2 linked regions of the Homo sapiens genome follow. The protein of the gene in region 2 purifies or fractionates together with the protein of the main gene of each other region. This does not show direct contact. Each region holds a gene or a part of one and is shown on either strand. Other genes may lie near its edges.

Region 1 (3,500 bases), on a different chromosome or scaffold from region 2:
TATTATTTGTTTTTGATCTAAATGTCAGTATTAGTGTGACTGGGCAGAAAAAGCTCAGAAATAATTACAAATGGAGCTTGGAGGCCATAAAGCCCAGTGGTAAAAGCAGGCCTGCATGGGGAGCCCGGCTCTGCTTTTACCACTGGGTAAAAGCTCTGCCCTCTCTGTGGACTCCACGCTGGGGATTCAACCACTCCATGCAACCAGCTCAACCATAATAAGATCTACTATCATATGCTTATCATGAGGCTGTTGAGGGCCCCCATATAGTAAGTACTCATTGAAACACATTAATTAACTGGGCACGGTGGCTCACGCGTGCAATCCCACCACTTTGGGAGACTGAGGTGGGAGGATTGCTTGAGCCCAGGTGTTCAAGACTAGCCTGGGCAACATAGCAAGGCCCTGTCTCTATTTAAAAATAATAAAAGGCCAGGCGCGATGGCTCACGCCTGTAATCTCAGCACTTTTGAGAGGCCGAGGCGGGTGGATTGCTTGAGCCCAGGCAGTCGAGACCAGCCTGGCCAACATGGCAAAACCCTGTCTCTATTAAAAAAAAATTAGCTGGTCATGGTGGCACACGCCTATAGTCCCAGCTACTTGGGAGGCTGAGGTTGGAGGATCATCTGCGCCCAAAGGTTAAGGCTGCAGTGAGCCAAGATTGCACCATTATACTCCAGCCTGGGCAACAAATTGAGACTCTGTCTCAAAAAATAATAATAATAATAAAATTAAAAATTTTAAAAACCAAAAAAAATTCAACATAATCATTTAAGAAAGTACTAAACTGAGAGTTTAAAATATTTCAATTCTGTCACTGAAAATTAATATAAGGAGGCCAGGCACAGTGGCTCACGTCTGTAATCCCAGCACTTCGGGATGCCAAGGGAGGCGGATCAGTTAGGTCAGGTGTTCAAGACCAGCCTGAGCAATATGGTGAAACCCGTCTCTACAAAAAATACAAAAATTTAGCCAGGTGTGGTGCCACGTGCCTGTAATCCCAGCTACTCAGGAGGCTGAGGCACGAGAATCGCTTGAACCCAGGAGGCAGAGGTTGCAGTGAGCCAAGATCACGCCACAACAGAGCAAGACTCTGTCTTAAGAAACAAAAAATTACTCTAAGGAGCCTGTCCATGGAGTGGATTGATGGTGATGTTAGCTTCTCAGTTGTGTCACTTAACAGCCTACTCGCTGTCTATCTTGGGTAGAAAACAAAAGAAAGACTCAGCAGGAAAACAGGAACAGAAAGAGCTGCCGCTCGCCAGGGGAAAAGGACCCTTCCCCGCCGCTCTCCACGCAAGCATCCACAGCACTGGAGAAGGCAGTAGGCCAATAATCACGATTCCTACAGGACTCAAGGACTTTTACTTTCATTTTTTTGAGATAAAGTCTCTGTCACCCAGGCTGGAGTGCAGTGGCACAATCTCAGCTCACTACAGCCTTGACCTCCTGGGCTCAAGCGATCCTCCCACCTCAGCCTCCTGAGTAGCTGGGACTACAGGCATGCACCCCTATGCTCGGCTGATTTTTTGATTTTTTGTAGAGAGGGGGTCTCACTATGTTGCCCAGGCTGGTCATGAGCTCCTGCGCTCAAGTGATCCTCCTTCCTTGGCCTCCCAAAGTGCTGGGATTACAGGCATGAGCCACTGTGCCTGGCCTCAAGGAGTTTTAAATCCACCAACAAAACAAACCTTCTCCATCGTGCTGCTAAGACAACGGCTGTGTTCACACTGTGAGGATGGTGACACCAGAACATCATGACTTGCTCCTTCCTGAGTGCCTGACTCTATGTAACTACCGGACCACAGCCCTACTGCTAGCTGAGGGGGGGGCCCCTCCACTCAGGCCTTTGAAAACCACCTGTGAAAAGAATGATTCCTGGTTCCCAGAGCACCACCTCTGACCAGGAGACTGAGGACCAGCCATCTACCCACGCTGTGGACTTCTGGCACACCAACTACGCCCAGCCCGGCGATGCCAAGGGCCAGGTGTTGCTATTTTAGATCCAGCTTAAACAAAGGGATCCAGAGGGAGCTGTGAGGAGCTCAGGATTCCCTCGGCTCTTCGACCCTCTCCACCTACCTGTTCAGCACAGTCTACAGCCGTGCGCTGCCGCTTGTTCAGCACCTGAACTGACGCTCCGTGGAGCAGAAGCAGCTCTACCACGAAGACGTGCTTTTCAATCACAGCCTCGTGCAGCGCTGTGTTGCCCTTATTGTTAGAAGCGTTAATGGAGGCCCCGTGCTGGAAAGAGAAACCACACGATCAAAAGGAACGCTACGAAACGTCAGCATGGAATCTGGCTGTGGGTATACAGGTATTCGCTATAAAACACATTGTTTTTTTTATGTCTGAAAGTTTCCTTAAAATTTGGGGAGGAAAAGTAATACTGAGAAAAAAAGATTTATAGACAAAGAGTTCGCTGCAGCATTTATCCTAATAGCAGAGAAAACAGAAGCCACTTAAATGTACAGAGCAGAAACAGGTTCAAAAAAATCACTATGGTATATCCATAGTTATGCAACCATTAAAAATCAAAGTTTGAGTAAATAAGTTTCTACATTAAATAACATTAAGACAGAAAACAATACTTGGGGCCAGGCACAGTGGCCCATGCCTATAATCCCAGCACTTTGGGAGGCAGAGGCAGGTGGATCACCTGAGGTCAGGAGTTCAAGACCAGCCTGGCCAACATAGTGAAATCCCATCTCTACTAAAAAAAAACACCAAAAAACAAAAAAATTAGCTGGGCATGGTGGTGGGCGCCTGTAGTTCCAGCTATTCGGGAGGCTGAGGCAGGAGAATCGCTTGAACCCCGGAGGCAGAGGTTGCAGTGAGCTGAGAGTAAGCCACTGCATTCCTAGGTGACAGAGCGAGACTCCATCTCGGAAAAAGAGAAAACAATACTTGGCGAGGCCCCGTGGCTTACACCCGTAATCCAGCACTTTAGGAGGCCAGTGCAAGAGGATCGTTGGAGCTCAGGAGTTTGAGACCAGCCTGGGCAACATAGTGAGACCCCCATCTCTACTAAAAACAAACAGCAAAAACTAGCCAGGTGCAGTGGTATGTATCTGTAGTCCCAGTTAGCTGGGAGGCTGAGGCACCTGAGCCTGGGAGACTGAGGCTGCAGTGAGCTGTGAGGGTGCCATTGCATTCCAGCCTGGGCCACAGAGCAAGACCTTGTCTCAAAAAAAAATTAATAAATAACACTGAAACTATACACATTTGTCAAAAGTCCACCATAATGAGTTTCCCTTGAGTAGCACAGTCATGGACAGGTTGGTTTTTCCCTACTTCTTTAAGAAATTCTAATGCATTCACATAACCTTTTTCAAGAGCAGCAGGGACAGAGGCGGCCACTCAGCCCATGCTCAGGTAACAGCGTGACACATTCCCGGTCGGTGAGGTGAGACCCAAACCCTTGGCAAAAGCAGCGTCGGAGCCCTTGAGACCGCATCCCAGATGCTGGGGCACCATCTGTTCCCATCGGAGAACCCCGT
Region 2 (3,500 bases):
CTGCTTTTGAAAGTTGTAGATGATTTATCTTCAGTAAAATATACATCTGCCTTTCATGTAGTAAATAGAGACTTCTTTTCAAAAGAAAGCATTCCAAAACTCATTAAGAAACAACAACTGCAAAAACATAAACCCAGGACCTAAATTTGATTTCAGCCATCATGGTGGGACAACAAGTCACCAAACTTGTAAGCAAGTGTCTATGGTCCCACTGGGAAGTCTTAATGGCCTCTGCTTGTCCCTTCAGCTTCCAAATCTATAAAATTAATTAATGAACCAGGCTCAAATTAATCATAGCATCCGGGTGCTGGGTAAATTCTTGAAATTTATCAGATCTTGAAATTGGCAAAACACTGCACTCCTGGCAAGCCGAGTGGCACAGATAAATTGGAAAGTACAGGTCCTAACACATCCCAGTGTTCCAAGGTGGAAAAGCAGGTTTGCTCTGTCTGATTATAGAAGAGATCATCATCCTTTTTCTCAAAGGTAATGGCTACATGAGCATCTCAAACCTGCAGCTCTTCAGTCTAAAACTGAGCTCCCCAAATTTGAGCCTTAGCACTGGGCTCTCCAGGGGAGGGTTTGTTGAGACTTAGATTGCCACGCCCCATCCCTAGTCTCTGATTCAGTGGACCTGGGGTGGGGTATGAGAATTTGCATATCTAAACAGTTTCCTAGGTGATGCTGAGGCTGATGGCCAGAGAACCACCGGCAGAAAAACACTGGTCTAAAAGCAGGGCTTTCCTAGGGAGTTTTCTATCATGAAATCTGGAAGTCTGATCTCAAGCTCCTAACCCTCCCTAGGACCACAGCCTCCCATGTATGGTCATGGCTTCCACCTCCTTCCTCGGACTGAACCTTTTCAGTCCATGTCATAACCTCTGGCCAGGTGCCCTCCCCTCTCTAGCCTCCCTGTCCATCACCTTTGCTCTGGCTTCACTCTCCTGCCAGGGCCAGGCCCCCATGGTCATTTGTGTTTTGGTCTGTGCTTACTACCTAATCGCCTAGCCATTGCCATGCAGGCCTTGAAATTGCCCATCATTTTCTGCCTTCTTTATTTTCATTTCCAGGATTCGAAACTCACTTAAACCATGCTGTCAGGGGCCACGCCAAGCCCATGCTTCTAACTCAACACCAACACCACTGCTCAGCAATCCTTCTACTCTTCCATAGCACATCCCCTACCTTGGCAGCCTGAACCATGTCTAGTCTCCTTGGGTTTCCCATTCTCTTCCCTACTTCCCCACCAAGGACTGAGCCTTCACATAAACCAAGAAGACCCAAGTCATCAAATGTGACTTCTTTCCACCCGCATGTATTTCCCTGCCGATCCTTCCAACTTGACTTCTCCACTCCTCCCTTCTAGGAATTTGTGTCCCTCCTCCTTAGCAAGCCTATCTAATACATCCATCTACACTATTAACCCTCTCCCTCTCAGACCCGACTCTATCTTTGTAAGACATTTGACCTCTTTCCCTTGGCTCCTTCACACTGACACACATTCACACACACACGTACACACACTCAAATATGCACACACATTTACACACATATGCACCCACTTTTCTTAAACAGACTCCTTCCTTAAACCTCTGCAAGCTGTTTGGGGGAGTCACCATTATGGAGTGTCTCCAGACTGCTGCTGTAGCACGAGGATGGAAGAAGCTCAGATCCAGAGACCCCGCAGGCCTGGGTTCCAGACCTATCTCTGGCTCTTCCCACCAGTGCAATATTGGGTAAGTTATTTAACATCTGAGCCTATCTCCACATCTGCAGAAACAGGAACACTAAGCACCACTTACATGGTTGCTGGGAAAAGCAAATAAAATACTGGATGTTGACGTGCTTTATAAACTCTGACCTAGCCCCTAATGGCCTTTTAACAAACAAATAAGAGGCTCTCTCTGTCCGACTTCTCCAGGCTTCTGGGCAATGCTTTCTGAAATGACTGCTCTAAATGTTTCTGTGTCAAGAGCAGTTGCCCTCACACAGTGGGGGCCAGAAAAATATGCGTTCATTTGAAATGAAGGCCAGAGAAAGTATTCTGACTTCCTTTTACCAAGAAGGAAAAATCAGATGGGAAAATGTTACCAAGTATTTTTTGCCTCCAGCACATTCTTTTAATAACATTCTCTGGTGTGCAGTAATTAATTTTTAAGCATAACCAGCCCCGACTTAAGCAAGTGATATTTCAACTGAAAATGATTCTTCCCTGCCATCTTTGATTTTCTTCTCAGTCCCATTCAGACAAAGAGAACTCACTTTTTTAACTCGGGTGGTCAGATCCTGGACAAAGAGTTTCCGAAGGTTGTGCAGTGTCTGCAATTCTCTAGACTGGAAGAGATTTTTAAAGGCCACTTAAGTGCAGCAATTCACTGAATTTATGACACATTTGGCACCAGATCATTCCCCCGACACTTCCCAAGCCTGCCATGGACGCCGCTGGTGCACCCCCTTCCCTGTGACACCCCCACCCTGACCATGCCCACCCCTGGACCTAGTGTCATTACTGGAGCACCTTGAGGTGCAGAGCCTGAGAACCCAGACCACAAATTGTAAACCAGAACAAAGCCTGCCCATCTGCTCACAGTGGAACCACACATTTCCTCACCCACAAAAATTCAAAGGTTTCCTCACAAAAATTCCTACTGGGCTATGTTGTATCAGGGTGAATTCCTTTTTTCTTTTTTTTATTATGTAAATGTTACAATGTAATACCAACAAGCTGAAATGAAAAGTTAGCCACAATATCTCACCGTAACTGACTCACATTTTTCCTGTCTCCACACCTGCTTCAGACGCAAGTCCACACACTTGCTTGTTTTAAGTCACTGAGCTTACGGATGAGGCATTTCATGGACTTTCCTCCTGGGTGGCCCTGGGCAAGTTATCTAACCTTTCTGTGCCTCAGTTTTCTTATTGGTAACATGAGAATAAAAACAGTGGTTGCCTTATCATTGCTGTCAAGATCAAATGAGATGAACCTTATAATGTTCTTAGAACATTTTCTGGCACATATTAAGTGCCCAATAAAGATGACTAGTATGAATTTATTGATGCATATTTCATAACATAAAAGCCATTTTTTCATTAGGATTGTATTGCTTCCTTTTATTGTTGTTGTTAAAACTTTCACTGTCATCTTGGGGGCATTTTTTCCCTTCATTTTGGATTATTTTCTACAAATGAAACCTTAGGAATTAGATTACTGAGACAAGAGCCTGAGCCAAATCTGGTGATCTTTGTTAACAAGATCAGAAGATCAAACATTTCTGTCTGCTCAAGTCTCCATGTATTTACCATAGGAAATATGATCAGTTCCTTGCAAAATATTTTCCTATAGAGGAAGAGGAGAGAGCTAAATTCTGCATGCAAACTTTGTCTAAATTGACCTACTTTAACACAGAATTTCAAGGGATGCAACTCACACACGCTCACATCTAAAAGGAAGAAACAGACTATAAAGCTACGGAAACACTAAGTTTCTTGCAATAAAGGTT

The links. Proteins that work in one complex are often made in the same cells at the same time.
Region 1: the proteins of KIF5C (region 2) and ANKRD27 purify together in Homo sapiens (co-immunoprecipitation; one study listed by IntAct). This does not show direct contact.

What each region holds. Positions count from the first base shown.
Region 1 is NC_000019.10:32,602,181-32,605,680, forward strand, and holds part of ANKRD27 (ankyrin repeat domain-containing protein 27), read right to left. Parts: intron 2,245-3,500; coding exon 2,083-2,244; intron 1-2,082. UniProt on the Homo sapiens protein: May be a guanine exchange factor (GEF) for Rab21, Rab32 and Rab38 and regulate endosome dynamics.
Region 2 is NC_000002.12:149,004,227-149,007,726, reverse strand, and holds part of KIF5C (kinesin heavy chain), read right to left. Parts: intron 2,335-3,500; coding exon 2,263-2,334; intron 1-2,262. UniProt on the Homo sapiens protein: Microtubule-associated force-producing protein that may play a role in organelle transport. Has ATPase activity. Involved in synaptic transmission. Mediates dendritic trafficking of mRNAs.